2 linked regions of the Homo sapiens genome follow. The protein of the gene in region 1 binds, or shares a complex with, the protein of each later gene. Each region holds a gene or a part of one and is shown on either strand. Other genes may lie near its edges. A codon is read from its position in the direction of its gene.

Region 1 (8,129 bases):
TTTTTTGAGACAAGAGTCTTGCTCTGTCGCCCAGGCCAGAGTGCAGTGGTGCAATCTTAGCTCGCTGCAACTTCCACCTCCTGGGTTCAAGCGATTCTCTTGCCTCAGCCTCCCTAGTAGCTGAGATTACAGGCATGCATCACCATGCCCAGCTAATTTTTGTATTTTTAGTAGAGACAGGGTTTCGCCATGATGGCCAGGCTGGTCTCAAACTCCTGACCTCAAGTGATCCGCCCACCTCGGCCTCCCAAAGTGCTGGGATTACAGGCGCGAGCCACCGCACCCAGCCTTTACTTCTTAATAAAAGAGACACTGCTTATATGCCAGAAAGTAATATTGGAAGGAAAATGTTTTAAAATTTGTAACCTAGTGTACTATATCATGTTCAAGGAATCCAGTTGGGGGAAAATTAGTGTTCTAGATTAGAACAGTTTCATCCTCCTCCACTGCCCTAAGCCCCAGCACATTGCCATCCCTAAAGTAGTCACTGACTCTGCCTGGTGTATGTTAAAAGGTCACCATTAAAAAAATCAATTTCTTCCCTAGACAAAAGGTCGTGATCACTTTTAAACAAACCAAGGTAGACTTACGAGGCTAACAGCATAGCAGCAGTGCCCACAAGCTGAAGTTTTCCTCTCAGCACTGACATGGAAGACAGGAACCTATCAATGTAGTTCACAGCCAAATGCAGGGTCTCATTCTGTAGTTTATATTCTTCTCCTACTTCAACTAACCAGTCCACGAGGATAGCTCTCATACTGTTAGTGATGTCTGGCTGTTTCTTCATGTAACCCACTTTAGGTTTACATTTAACCTATTGAGAAAATTATTTATAGTGTTAAAATTATTCTAGTGTAAAAACTGCAATTAGATTATTTTACCATTAATTACGAGAGGCTACATGCTATAAACTTAACTGTAGCATTAGAATAATTCATTAGTTTAAAAATTTAAACATTATCCTCTCAATTTCATTTAGCCACATTTAACAAATACATTATACAAACTGGATTCAGAGAACCTTTACCTCCATTTCCCTAAGGTATGTGTGAATATCCTCATGGTAGTCTGGTACTTCATTAACACTCACTGGCTTTTCATCTTCTAATATAATTGACATGTCCATAGTATGTGGTGACTCTGGGACAATTCAAAAGATATGATTAAATTAATTGTTTGCCTATTTAGTTTAATAGCTAAAAATGACTGCCATGGAAGGAATCTCATATTAACAAAGCACTTATTTCTTCAAACTAAAAAGAGCTTCTCATGACAAAATATGTAGAATATTTTACCCTAGTCTCAGTATCTCTGTACATAGAACTTTGGAATGATTTTAGTTAATGAGGGAAAAAAAAAAAAACATATTGGTAGGCCCCTAACAGGAAAATGAGAATCAGGTATTATCTTAAAGTATCCATCTTCCACAACAGAAAGGAGCAAATGGCATGGTGGTTCTGTTAGGACAGAACACTTTTAAAATCCAAGTTTTGAGATAATATCTAAGATTTGTCCCAAGAGAAACTGCAGATCCCAGAGTCTGACATATATAAAGCACAAGTAGGCAATAGCTAGCATCAGTTAAATGGCCTCTATTAACAAGTGTTATTAAGAAATTAGGTTTGTTATGGGCAAATGGATTAACACTATAAATAATTTATTTTTTGTAGTATAAATTATTTTGAAGCAAAGAGTATCATCCATTATTCCTTTCACTTCAAAGATCACCTTGAGATTAAACATTTTCTGCAAAATTTTGATAAAAACACACAAATTATTATTTCCAAAGGACTTTTCCTGCTCACCCCTCCTTCCTCACAATCAATACAACTAAAACTAAAATGAGATTGGATTTAGTGAGCTGTCCAGTGACTCAATATCCCTAGGGCAAAGAAATAGTACAAACTGCAAAGAGCTGTTTACAGAAGCTACTTTAATACATGGGTAAGAGTAAACAGCCATGGTACAACTATTTACTTGTAGGAGGAAAAGTGTCACTTTCTGGTATCAGATGCTAATCCAGACTGGTTTTATAGAAACAAAATTATAAAACTGGAAGAGACGTTATGTAATCACAATATTTAAGACTGCATCTTCAAATAGCACTAAGTGATATATAAGTGAGTTAAATAAAACTGAAATCTATTCTCCCAACCAAGAACACATTTATGGGATCAGATTAAAATAAGCATTTAAGATCTAATTATAATTAGATTGATGTGACTGGCAGTGAACCTGAAAGAGCACTGGATAAGGATCTTTTTGTATGTCACCAAGTCAAGTGTTAGCTGTGAGATCTGAGATAAGTCACATCCTTTCTAAGCCTTGTTACATTAAACCTAACTCACTATAGTCAAAATGACTACATAAGACATCTTAAAATGCAAATCATTAATATCATCTAATAATTATAATTACCGTAATTCCACACAGATTTTCCTTAAAACTTACCAAAACTACCATCCATTGGATAATCAAGAGGGACCAATGGTTTTCTGGGTCCAGGTAAACTAATGGCTGAATTAAAAGCCAGGGCATCTTCACGCTCTATTTTTTGAGATTCAGCTGGCTTCTTCTGAGCTTCTTTTTCTGCTTCATCCACATGAATGGTGAACGCAGGCTGTTTACTGTTTGCTTTCCAAGGAGGAACGGTGACATGCTCATCATTTACAGGAAGATCCTTAAGGGGTGCAACCTAAAAAAAAATTAATAACTGGCTTTGAGCCTACTAGTCTTGCATTCTTTCTCTTATGGGTGTTGGCCTTTGCTTTTTCTCCCAAATACTCTATCAGGAATTAAACTTTCTGGGACAAAGAAGAGTTTCAGTATTCAAAAGAGAAGGGATGTTCCCATTTGTCACAGGCATTCCCACAAAGGCTATCAATAGATAACACTAGGTGGAATTATGCAAAACTTATCAGGGCCACAAGAAGGGTCGGGTGACAGGCCAATACGTGACAAGTTTAGGAAAGACAGCAAAAAAATTGTTGGTTCACCACTGTCGCCCGAGGGTGGAGCAACAGAGCAAATCCGGCTAAAATGGCGGAATTTGCCAAAAGCAAAGTATTTTGTACACGCTTTTCTAAAGTAGAGGTCATCTCTTAAGCGTGAGGAGGATAGGGGTCAGAGTCCTACAGCAGTGCCTGGGGTTTAAAAGTGGAGAGAAAGGCGCGGAGCTGAGCGAAGACTACACGTTTTAGAGCTTGGTTTGACCCCATTATGTACAGGCAGATGCCCCCTATAGAGAGCAGACCGGCAGCATACACACAGTGTTGGCGGGGTCCTGATGCTAATATGGGAGAACTCCTACTGTGGCAAACCACACACCAGCACCAACTGCACTCCAGACCCTGGCCCCCTTCCAAAAGCCCAGGACATGCCTTCTCGCCACTCTTCTCTGCCTGCTAAGCCAATGCCAAACCCTGCTCGACCCACCCTCCTGCAGATATCCCGCATCCCTTTACCCGTCTCGTCTTCGGCCTCTGCTGCTGCGCTAGACCCCGCGGGTTCCCGGACTTCAGTACCGCCAGCGCGGCCCGGGTCCGCGGTTGTTGGACGGGCGCTGCCTTTTCCGGGTTGATATTCTCCTGGTCCTCTTGGAGCGCCGTCTGCTGCAATGCTAGCAGCGCCGAGCCCGCCTCGCGGGTCGCAGGCCCCGGCGCAGAGTTGCCCAACATCACTGCTCCCGGGAGTGGACGGCGGGATCAGCCTGCGGCGCCAAGCAGCGTGCACTCTGCCCAGCCGACCACTCGCACCGACCCGGCCAAAGAATAGTCGTAGCCGCCGGTCGCAGCCCAGGCCAGCCTACCAGCCCGCCCGCTCGCTCACCCAGCTCGAGACCACGCAGGGCCGAGGAGGTTGCGAAAGGCGCAGGCAGGCACTGCCCAGCGTGGCGAGCCAAAGACGCCCAGAGATGCAGCGAGCAGCCCGCCGGAGCGGCGGCTGTTCTTGCAGTTCAAGTATCCCGCGACTATTGAAATGGACCAATGAAAGCGCTCGCGGCCTTGACGTCATTCAAGGCGACAGGGTCGCAGGCGAGTGAAGGGTAAACCAAAGGAAACTGAGCAGGGGCGGGGCAGGAGGGAGAAACAAACTGGCTGGGGCGGGAGAAAACGCCTGCGCGGGGCGGGGAGAGGTAGGATTTAGGGCCCGACGCTTCCGATTATTTTAAGCTGAGCCACCTAGTGAGCGAGGCTGTCCGAAGGCTGACTCTAAGCCTTTTAGGGAATTAAACGGAATTAAACTTTGGCGACTATCATTTGGGTTGCCCAGCCTTTAGCTCTGGGACGTCTAGTTAGCTTAAGTGACTTTTTCCAAAGGTCTAAAATCTGGGGCACGTTTTTCAGTATCTCCGATTCTCCGTTTTCTTATGTGTTAATAGGGACTAATAACTACAGTCATATGGTTGTTAGGATTAAATAATGTGCATAAATTATTTAACACGGAGCTCACATAGTAATACAGTACTCAAGTGTCAAGACTGTAATGTCATCTTAACATTTAGGCGTTTATTCATAGTAACCAGAAATTGTGTTTTATGCTTTTTATTTTTCCTAATGAAGATGCAATTAATTTAAGATGGCACCTTGAACTACTGTTGATATATATAATAAATAGCAGTGCATTACAAAATATTCAAATACAGTCATTAATTTTTTTCTATTTTTCCCCAAGCTGTGGCAACCAACAAAAAACACAATGACGTTCTAGTGACCTAGATATAATTATGTTCCTTTCAGAAGTAAAGTTTTTTAAACATAGTAAAAACAATATGACCTTATTAAAATAAAACTCTCTTAACTATACGTGCCTTTAACAAATTTTTATATTTATATATAAATATAAGAATATACAAAGCTTGCACATAACTAATAAGTATAATAGCATATCATTAAGAAGCACTGTTTTCTAAAAAATTCGTGAGTCTGCCCTTCTTGAAACATAAAGCTTATTTTCCATTATCTGTATGCCATTTTAAAACCTTTCAATATTCCCTTGAAATTAATAAATATGAATTAAGATTAATGCACAAAACTTCTGTAGCCTTAATGTCATATATGATAAAAAGAGATCTAGAAGATACTAGTGTAGGAAAATCTAAGATGGCATCACTATTTCTGCACTCTTCACTTGAAGCACGCTGAATAGCTCCACTGGTTACAGCATGTCTAATTAAGATCCCCCGACTCTGTGTAAGCTCTTCTTATTTCCTGGCTACAATTTATAGCACTGAGCCAAGTCCAGCATTTCCACAAACTGCAGCAGAGTCATAAAACACTACCAAGCAAAAGGAATATCAGTTGCAAATCAATCCTATCTCCTAGAAAAAACAATTGGTAGGTTATTTCCACTAGCTGGCAACATACATAGTAACCAGGACACAAAGCAAGTACCAGTACTTGGGTTCTGGTCCCAGCTTTACAAAATATTAGCATGTCCTCTTAATCACAAAATTTCACTGAGAATCAGTTTTCTTATATGATTTGACAAATTTTACAACAGTTGTGAAGATCAAATAAGGTAATATATAAAAATACATTTTGAAGCCTATAAAGCGGTCTACATGTTTATGTGTTTATGTACCTTGTAATACATTTGAATATATTTTAATTTTCCACATATTACTTCTCAATTTAAAAATTAAAACAGCCACTTGCCAAAAATTCATTAAAATCCTATTTAAATCATTCTACTTGTGTTTTAAAAATAAAAAGACTCTTTTAGTTTTAGAAAGTTCAATTTGTCAAAAGAAATAGAAGCATTACTTTAAAAAGCCATTATATCTCAAATATTTTTAGATATAAAAAAGCATTTGAAATTAAAGTACATACACAGTTAACTTCTAATTCTCTTTTAACATTTTTCATTTAAACAGACCACTTCTTTGGGACTTTACCTTATTTGTATGTCATGCTGCATCGAAGAATGAAATCAATGCATTTTGGTCATAACTGTCCAGAATTTCCAATAGAAGGGGTACTTTAGTTTTTACATTGGTGCCTTTAAACTTAAATTTATCTATGAAAAGATCAGTGATCATGCCTTTAAAGAAAAAACATAAATTTCCTGTCAGTGATTAGTTATATTTAATGACACAGTATTTCACTAAAGTAATTGCTTGATAATCTATTTTTAAGCACCTGTAATTCCATGATTTAACATACACAAACCTAAAAGCCATGTTTTTAAAAATAGTCATTTTGGGGGGATTTTAAAACAAGTTTCAAGATATAAATCATCTGCCTAATAACCCTCTTAACAATTGATTACAAGCTATTAATTCAGACAATCAACTACTGGCCATTTTTGAACTGCTATCAGTATATATAACATCACAACAAGTGGTATATTTTTTCCACCAAGCTGACCATTTTGACATAGTCTAGGCAGATTCTATTTTTAACAGCTTATCTGAATTAAAATATTCCACCTATATGTTGACCATTCTTGGGATTTGACTTGAAGGCAAATAGTCCTAGGTTCAAAGATCTGGGCAAATCATTTCACCTTGAGTTTTCTCATATGTAAAACAGGAATAATTCAAGCTGTCAATCCTTTATCCAAAAAGCTTGATGCAAGATGTATTTCAGAATTTTTCCTATTTTAGGAAGATAATGAAAGGAATATACTATGGTATTAACCCCAAGGGGACTGAGTAGCAGCATCCAATAGCAAAACATAGTACTATTTCTGGCACAAAATATACGGATGAATATTTGCACTAAGTGGAATAAAAAAGATATAACCTTGGGCTGGGCACGGTGGCTCATGCCTGTAATCCCAGCACTTTGGGAGGCTGAGGTGGGCAGATCACGAAGTCAGGGGTTGGAGACCAGCCTGGCCAATATGGTGAAACCCTGTCTCTACTAAAAGTACAAAAAAATTAGCTGGGCATGGTGGCGCACACCTGTAATCGCAGCTACTCAGGAGGCTGAGGCAGGAGAATTGCTTGAACCCAGGGGGCAGAGGCTGCAGTAAGCCGAGATCGCGCCACTGACTCCAGCCTGGGAGACCAAGCGAGACTCTGTCTCAAAAAACAAACAAACAAACAAACAAAAAATATATATAAAACCTCATGTCAGTTTAAGTCAGATTTTGTTATTAAATTAATTCAGATTAAGTCAAGATTTTGCTGTCAAATTATTTATGAAAAAAACTTTGGTTTACAAAGCTGTCTGGATTTTGCAATCAGTGATATTATGTACAGCCAATCTCATAAGTTATTATAAGGATAAAAGAGATCATGTGCTTGTCATGTAATAAAGGTTAAGACATTAAATATAGCTACAGTTTGTGAGAAAGTCTCTGGATATGTAATAAAAAATTCAGTAGGCAGGCTTAAGGATCCATGTGTACTAGTGATACCAATTGGCTCTACAGTGACTATGGAAGGCTTGGCATAGTGTAAAAGGCATGCATTTTGGGGTGAGAAGATTCTAATGCAGGCATGATCACTAACTTGCTAGGTGACAACAAATTCCTTAGACTCAGATTTCAGTTAAAGCATATGAAAAATGAAGATAATACCACCTACCTTGCAGAGCTATTGTAAGGATTAAATATCTCACCTGATTATGAAGACAGTGTAAATAGTGTGCTATATACAACAGGTCTTATGTAAAGATTGCTAACAAAATTGTTTTTCTTAAGCTGTTTCTTCCTTCCTCACTCCTTCTTTCCCTCTCCTCACCTCCCTTACTCTGTTTCAATACAATTTGTGAAACATTCAGCTTCTCACCACCAAAGTTTTGAACTATAAATTGACACAACACAAATACTGTATATCCTTTATTAAATTTTGCCTTAAAAATTTTAAATGCTGCATTTTTATAATTCACAATAGCAACAAAACATGACAATTATTTGTGTGAAATACAGTCTAAGCTCTAAAGGTTCATAGATTACATTCATTTTATACCAGGTTTGTTCATATATATAGATTAATTCATCACAGTATACTTATTTCTTAATATACTTGCATTTTATCAAGTAAAAGAATTAAATATTAAAAGTAGCTTGACAAAATACAGAAATATTCTGTGCAATAAATTTGTTGTCAACTGATTCATGACTGGTTCATGAATCATGACTGATGTAATCTTTTTATCTTTCTGCCCAGCTTCTCTTAC
Region 2 (7,487 bases), on another chromosome or scaffold:
AGCATTGATGTAAAATGACATATTAATCTTGATCTGTGGCATACCAGCAGTATTTATAAATATTAAAGAAATGTCTGTGTTAAACACTCAAGTTTCTTAAAGAATTCTCAGACACCCCAGAATTAAATATCCATACTGTTGGTTCTGCTACATGATTTGTTTTATTTTTTAAAAAGACACAAACAAAGGAACCCCAAATATTAAAAGCACACTTAAATGTCAGGGAGGACATTGTTGAATATTAGCTTTCCACTACAAGCAACAGTAAAAACAAAATGCCCAAGAATGTGAACCCAAACTACTTATGCCATTTTATTCCTATCTCCTTACTCATCATTTCACTTTAATCAAAAATATTTCAGTATCAACAATATAACCAGAGAAGGACAAGAGTCTAAACTGTACTAGATGAAGAAAAGAAAGTAAAAGTAGACCTGGTTAGTATGCCCAACCATAGTTTTTTATTGATAGATAGAGCTGACTGTCAAATATGGGGGGAAAAGGCACTTTGAAAAAACATTTATAAAATATACAGATTAGGACAGTTGAAACAGATAAGGTCTGGGCACAGTTTTGAGATTTTCATTAAGATCTTCAAAGAAGCAAGGTCCAAATTGTTTTAAAGTAGAAAGTGCTACCACATAAAATTCCAAATAAATACAGTCCGTTAGATTAAAACAGGCAGGCAGACAGGCAGAGAAACTAGTAGCATTACAGACTAGAATTTAATTATAGAGCCAAACAGTACATTATCAAGTGCTAAAACTTAGAAAATAAGATAAAAACTAGAAAAACATAATGGAATTACAATGTTATGCCGAGTTTGGGGGAGATCAATAAGTATTTGCATAAATTAATGACAAAGACTGGACAGTCTTTAATTTATCCAGCAGGAATACATATATTAGGCAAGAATGTGACCCCTTACTGCTTAAAAAAATTTACCTTTTTAACTGCTATGTCATACAGCATATAAATATTTGTCTCTCACAGCTTGCTTGCCTTTTCTAAAAAACTTTAAATGTCTTGTTTTCCTGTATGGCAGCAATAGCTGTTTAAGAAAAATAATTGAACCTATTAAACTTTCTGATTTGATTTGATAAGTTTCTTTATTACACAGAAACTACAAGATTATTTTCTCAGTTATCTATTTGTATTTTCACAGAATCATTCAGTGACTCAAATTTTCCTCTTCCGGACTTGTGCTCATGGGAAGAGGCTCAGCTTTCCTCTCAGCTCTACAGAAATAAGCAGGTATGTGTAAGTCAGAACATTGAGACTGGTCATGTTCTATGTGGTCCATTCCCCACTGCTAATATCTTGCTTCTTTTCCCTTTTGAAATTCATGCTGACTCAGTTTAGAACCAAAGTGACTGGTGTGTCCAAAGAGAGATCAAAGTTAGATGATCAATGTCAGAGAAAAGAAAAACAAGCAAGACACTCTAGAAAGGCCTGCAGTCAAGCTCTCACTTTACACATTTTAGCCGTATGACCTTGAATCCTTTTCCTTGTCCTCATTTATGGAATTGTAAACCTTGTACTGCCTATCTCAGAGAGCGTTTGAAAAGATCGAATGATATAATGAGTGTGACAGTATTTTTAAACCATAAGCATAGCTAATACTTGGAGAAGACATAATGATTATAAAATATTTTCCTAAGATTGCTTTTTACATGTTGTGTCAGTTTTGCCCCTGAAGGATAATTTAATCTAGTGGACATACAGACAGATCAATCTGAGGCTGAAAGAAGCCAACCCACCTCTATTTTTATTTATTTATTTATTTAAACATGCAAGGGAGGAGTCCAGCAAAATCTTCCTAAACATCATTTTCTATATTTAATTTAACCTAGTGGACATACAGACAGGTCCATTTGAGGCTGAAAAAAGGCGACCCACCTCTATTTTTTATTTATTTATTTAGAAGTGCAAGGAAGGAGTCCAGCAACATCTTCCTAAACATCATTTTCTATATTTAAACAGTTGCATGCAGCTCATTTTCCTTCATATCTACCTGATTCGCTTGTGGTTACAATTTTAAAAGTCTATTATAATCTCTCCAAATGCTTTGCAATGAATGAACATTCAGAGCACAAAGCTGAACAACTAGGCATTAGGGGGATGTAGATTTAATTTAGGCCTCTCAGGATGAGGGCTCCCTGTGCTTGTGTTCATACAACAAACAATCATCAAGTTTAAGGCAGTTAAGGAGCAGTGGCATTATTATAAGGTTACAAAGTCAATATAGTGGAGCAGCCTTCACCACTGTCTGCTTTTTGTAGCTGCAAGATACCCTGGTGCAGAAGGAAGAAGAACTCGCCAGGTTACACGAAGAGAATAATCACCTCAGACAATACCTGAATTCTGCTTTGGTTAAATGTCTTGAAGAAAAGGCCAAGGTATGTATGATGTATGTATCTACTTTATAAGAACAAAGCAGTGATTTGAGAAAGGAAATGATTTATGTAAAACTCCTTGATTAAACAGTGTATCTTGATATGCATTTATAAGATGGATGGTTTTTCTTAAGGAAATAACGGCTCTTTCACAAGAATTTTTATCTATCATTTCTCTGAAGTACCTAGATTGCAGATGTCAGTCTTATGTTACAAAAGAAGTTGCTTAAAAATCAAATGCTAGTCGAGGGTGGGGGTTGCTGAGACAATCAGTGTTAATCAAAAGGCAGAATTAGATGGATGGAATGCTGGTACGGGAAGCAGATCTAAAAGACACTCAGTTCTTTTAATGATCTGTTTGACTTTAGGCAAATCATTCTTACTTAGATCCTCACTTAACTTCATCTGTAATGGATGGTCTAAAATATCTTTTAAAAATTCTGCTAGATCTAAAATGCTGTGAATATTGCCTGAGCCCAAATCTCTTGATTTGGCATTTACAAATTATATTAGGCAATTAGGCATACACAATTACATTATCATTTAATTCACATTTTTTCTCCACTTTTAAAATGAGCTATTTCTAACTCAAGGATAAATAACTTGCCAGTAGTCTTCTTTTGTTCATGCTCAATTCTTTGCCTTTCAATTTTTTATTATCTAGTTGCCATTATGTTATCATTAATGCTTTCATCATCAATCTTTTCCATACTTCTAGACAAGCTGCATTATTTGAAATTATTTGATCTAAATTGATGATGCTTCTTGCTACTCTTACTAAATAGAGCAGTTCAGAGAATAGAAGACACTAGATTTGATTTCTTTACAATTCAGTTGCCTTTGTTAAAAAGAGAATATTTTAAGAGAATAGGCCAGGCTATTTTCCTGGGCTCCTAACTCCAGCCACCATTCCATAAAAGGACACTTATTATATTACTAAGTGATAATAACTAGGCAGTTTTATCTGTCAGTCTTAATAATTTTCCAATATTTAGAATAATATAATAATATATCTCAGAAGTGCTTTGAAAGTTAATGAAATAAGAAGAAGCAGTGTTGTATAGTGTTTAATCAGAGGATCTGTGTAGATTTGGGTGGCTTAGGTTTATGTGCAAGCTACATCATTCTCAGCAAGTCATTAATATATCTGTGCTTTAGTTTCCTCATTAATGAAGATTTTAATAACATCTATATCCAATGAGATAATACATGTAATCAGTGCTTTATAAATTGTAGTAAATGATAGTTCATTTATAAATGATAAAGATATTATGTATAAATAATATTGTTTATAAATATATTTATATTTATTTATAAATATTTATTCATATAAATTTATGAATATTTACTTATATAAATTAATATTTATTAATATATTTATAAATATATAAATATTTATAAATATATCTATTTCTAAATATTTATAAATATATATTAATAAATATTTTTATTTATTTATAAATATTTATAAATAAATATAAGTATTATTTATAAATATTTATAAATAAATATAAGTATTATTTATAAATATTTATAAATAAATATAAGTATTATTTATAAATAAATGATAGTTTATTTACAAATGGTAACTTAATAAATGATAGTGCTATTATTGTTATAATAATAATAACTTGCCGGTGCTGAAATCTTAAAAATATCATCTGGTCCTTTCAACATTTAAAACAATTGAGTAAAAAATGTGATTTAGAGTTTTTAGGCAGTAACTTGTCATCACAGATTTTACTTTACAAACAAGCTAATCCAATCCATCTTACTTGTGTGAAGAGAAATTTAAGCATTTTTTCCGAAATAATTTAGTTAACTAGTAAATATATGAAAAAAGTATAACTTTCAAATATCACTTCCCTAGAAATTGCTCTCATCTGATGAGTTCTCCAAAGCATATGGAAAATTCAGGAAGGGGAAGAGAAAATCCAAAGAGCAAAGATACTCTCCTGCTGAGATTCCCCATCCCAAAAATGCCAAAAGAAACCTCTCTAGTGAATTTGCTAACTGTGAAGAACAAGCTGGGCCCCCTGTGGATCCCTGGGTCCTTCAAACACTTGGGTTAAAAGACCTTGACACTATCGATGACACCTCATCAGCTAACTACAGTGCCCTCGCATCTCATCCCAGAAGAGTCGCCAGCACATTTTCCCAGTTTCCGGATGATGCAGTTGATTATAAAAATATCCCCAGAGAGGATATGCCAATTGACTATAGAGGTGACAGAACAACCCCCTTGCACAGCACTGCCACTCATGGAGAAGATTTCCACATCCTTTCTCAACTTTCAAATCCCCCAGTGGGGCTGAAAACTCTTCCTTACTATACTGCTCATGTGTCACCCAACAAGACAGAGATGGCATTTTCCACATCCCTGAGCCCTCATTGTAATGTGAAAACTCATTCCTTCCACCAGGGACAAGCCTTTGTGCGTCGAGATGAGGAGGGAGGCTGGAAGTTTACCTGGGTCCCTAAGCAGTCTTAGTGACCCCTCTTTTATCACAAAGCACTGCCACGAACTCTGTTTACAAAGACCTCTCTTGCACTTGAATTTGACTATGTGGAACACAGAAGCTGTTGCTTAGACTGTCTCCTGCCACTTTAAATGTCACTCTCAATTACCCACTTAAATCTGCAGGGAATGGCTTCCAAGAATCCATAATGAAACGTGTCCGCGCTTCTTTTACCTAAATTTGACTTGTTTACACACCAATACCTGCTATTGACATCCTCTCTTTGCCCTATACTTGATAAGGTATTTTCCACTCACTTCTATATTCCTTTAAGACCTAGATACATTTTTCCAATTTTAACCAGTTTAACAGATTTTCCTCTTTTAAGTAGTTGAAATATTCACAGCCCTTTTACTTTTCTCCCTTTGTCATTTCTGAAAACTGTCTTTAGAATGAGCCCTATTTTTGCTTCAAGTACTTGCTACTGCATGTTCAAATAGCTGAGGGTGGGGTTGAAACAAGTGTCTTTGCCCATCACCACTACTCCTGAAGACATAATGTGGATGTGTGTAGCATTATGTTCATGGCAGTTCAAAAAGTTCAGTGCCCCATAGTGGCATTGACAAAGCCTCTTAAAACAACTGTAACTCCACTAATAATCAATATCACAGATAAACTTTAAAATTACAAAGAATTTAAATTATTTTTAAATGCCTCATGATGTATCAGCTTCTATATGTACCCAGCATCATTTCTTTAACCAACATGACTCCAAGAAGAACATTTTGAGGGACTGTGGTAACAAAACTAGTCATCATCTGCAACTACCCAGATGCTGACAAACTCCTATTGCTGAAAATAGACTAACCTAGCTCAGCCATTGTCTCATTCATTCATTCATTCGCGTATTCATTTTTTCATTGATCAGTCCACCCAAGAAATCTGTAGAATACCTAATGCCTACTTTGTACCAGGCACTATGCTATGTGATGGTGATAAAATACAAGCAATTTAGACACTGTGGCCACCATCATGAGACTTAGACCTACTCATCTGCTATGACTTTGCGAAAACGACTTCCCTTTTGTGAAGGTTCAGTTTCCCAACTGTAGAATACAGAAGTTGGACTAGATAATTACTAATATTCTATGAATTGAGGCTGGGTCCTATCAGATTTACTCCAACATGGCAGTTTCAGGTCACTGAAGAAACTAAAGAGAAGTCTTTAGATAGGCACTGCAAGTATTAGGTAGGGTAAACTTTATGTACAATTAATAAAATTCAAAAACATAAGTCATTTGAAGTTAACATTAGAAATCATTGCTCTGATCACAGTACTCTTTTTCTAGAGCCCATTTTGCAGTTAACTCGGCGTAACTGTGTAAGAATAATTTGCCTCTAAAAATAGATACATATTAATTTTTAAATAAGTGCGGATAGATTGCATATAAATATTGCTATCAAGGACTTCATATTTCTAAATTTGAAACAATATATTTTCAGTGCTTGTGCTAGTTTTCTTCTTTCCCATCTCTCAAGACCCCTATCATTCCCAGAATAATTTGCACATCCTGCATGTGCACCTATGTTTTTTGGACAAACTTCAATTAATGATGAAATCTTTCATGTTGAAACCTGTTCTCATTTTTCTCTTTTCCACATCTCAATAAGTCATCTTGCACAATCAATATCTCGTAGGTCAACTGTGTTGGTTAGGATTCTTTGTAACAGAGACATGCCTTTCATTGTTGTTTCTGTTTGGTTGTTGCTTTATTTTGGTGATGTAAGCAAAGGGTCTGTTTTATAAAGTTTTGTTGCCACCCACTTTTAAAAATAATTTATGAAGAAAATCCAATATAGTAATTAATATTACTCTCTGGAGTACTTTAAGAAGTAGAACACATTCCATTTTCTAAAAAATAAAATAAAATAAATAACTGTGCCTTTTACATTCTGGTATCTGGGCCCCTGGTCGGTGAAATTTGTCGCTTTTTAGAATAAGAGATTTAAGGATTCGAATTATTGTACTTTATGACACTAGGAATTGAGAAAGTAATATAACTAATTTTGAAAGTCTAATAATCAAGCTGTAAAAGGAAATGTATGAGTTAACAAATATTTATTTTGCATTCTTTGTGTGCCTTATCATGTGTTAAGTACCATGAGGGTACACCCAGGCTTAGCACAATGCATTTGGTATACAAAACCATGTAAAATGTCATAGCTTTTGATAGCTTTTAAATGAAACTTAATTTTGGCCCAGTTTAAAGATATTACCGAACATTTGGGATAAAATGTGATGGTTTCCTGGCTTCTATCATGGACGATGTTATGGAAGACAATTACCACGTTTTTGAAATCATGTCTATAAATATTTAATATCCATTTAAATTATGTATAGAAAATTATTTTGTTCATGTTTTAGAAATTAAACATTTCTTTCACCTGAGTATATGTTTTACTTGTATGGCTTCACCATGTCTCTCTGGTAAACCACAGTTAATATTTTAAGCTATAGTGGGAAATAAAAACTCTTTTGTGATTGCGGTAACTATTTTTATACCATGCTTAACATTCCCTAATAGCAGATTTTCTTCTCCTGGTTTGTAACCATAATCCTGTGTATTTGCTC

The links.
Region 2: the proteins of CCNA2 (region 1) and GMNC are in contact, whole or in part, in a cryo-EM structure (PDB 9HIU), measured with the Homo sapiens proteins. Residues at the interface, in NP_001228.2 of Homo sapiens: Met210, Ile213, Leu214, Asp216, Trp217, Glu220, Val221, Glu224, Arg250, Leu253, Gln254, Tyr280, Ile281, Thr282, Asp283, Thr285; in NP_001140158.1 of Homo sapiens: Asn165 (codon at 4,375), Ala166 (codon at 4,378), Lys167 (codon at 4,381), Arg168 (codon at 4,384), Asn169 (codon at 4,387), Leu170 (codon at 4,390), Ser171 (codon at 4,393), Glu173 (codon at 4,399), Phe174 (codon at 4,402), Ala175 (codon at 4,405).

What each region holds. Positions count from the first base shown.
Region 1 is NC_000004.12:121,819,952-121,828,080, forward strand, and holds the start of CCNA2 (cyclin-A2), read right to left. Parts: upstream 3,933-8,129; 5' UTR 3,678-3,932; coding exon 3,465-3,677; intron 2,696-3,464; coding exon 2,452-2,695; intron 1,141-2,451; coding exon 1,028-1,140; intron 815-1,027; coding exon 591-814; intron 1-590. Other genes in the region: BBSome complex member BBS7, read right to left, coding at 5,909-6,042. UniProt on the Homo sapiens protein: Cyclin which controls both the G1/S and the G2/M transition phases of the cell cycle. Functions through the formation of specific serine/threonine protein kinase holoenzyme complexes with the cyclin-dependent protein kinases CDK1 or CDK2.
Region 2 is NC_000003.12:190,852,695-190,860,181, reverse strand, and holds the end of GMNC (geminin coiled-coil domain-containing protein 1), read left to right. Parts: intron 1-1,165; coding exon 1,166-1,254; intron 1,255-2,282; coding exon 2,283-2,399; intron 2,400-4,266; coding exon 4,267-4,887; 3' UTR 4,888-7,445; downstream 7,446-7,487. UniProt on the Homo sapiens protein: Regulator of DNA replication. Promotes initiation of chromosomal DNA replication by mediating TOPBP1- and CDK2-dependent recruitment of CDC45L onto replication origins.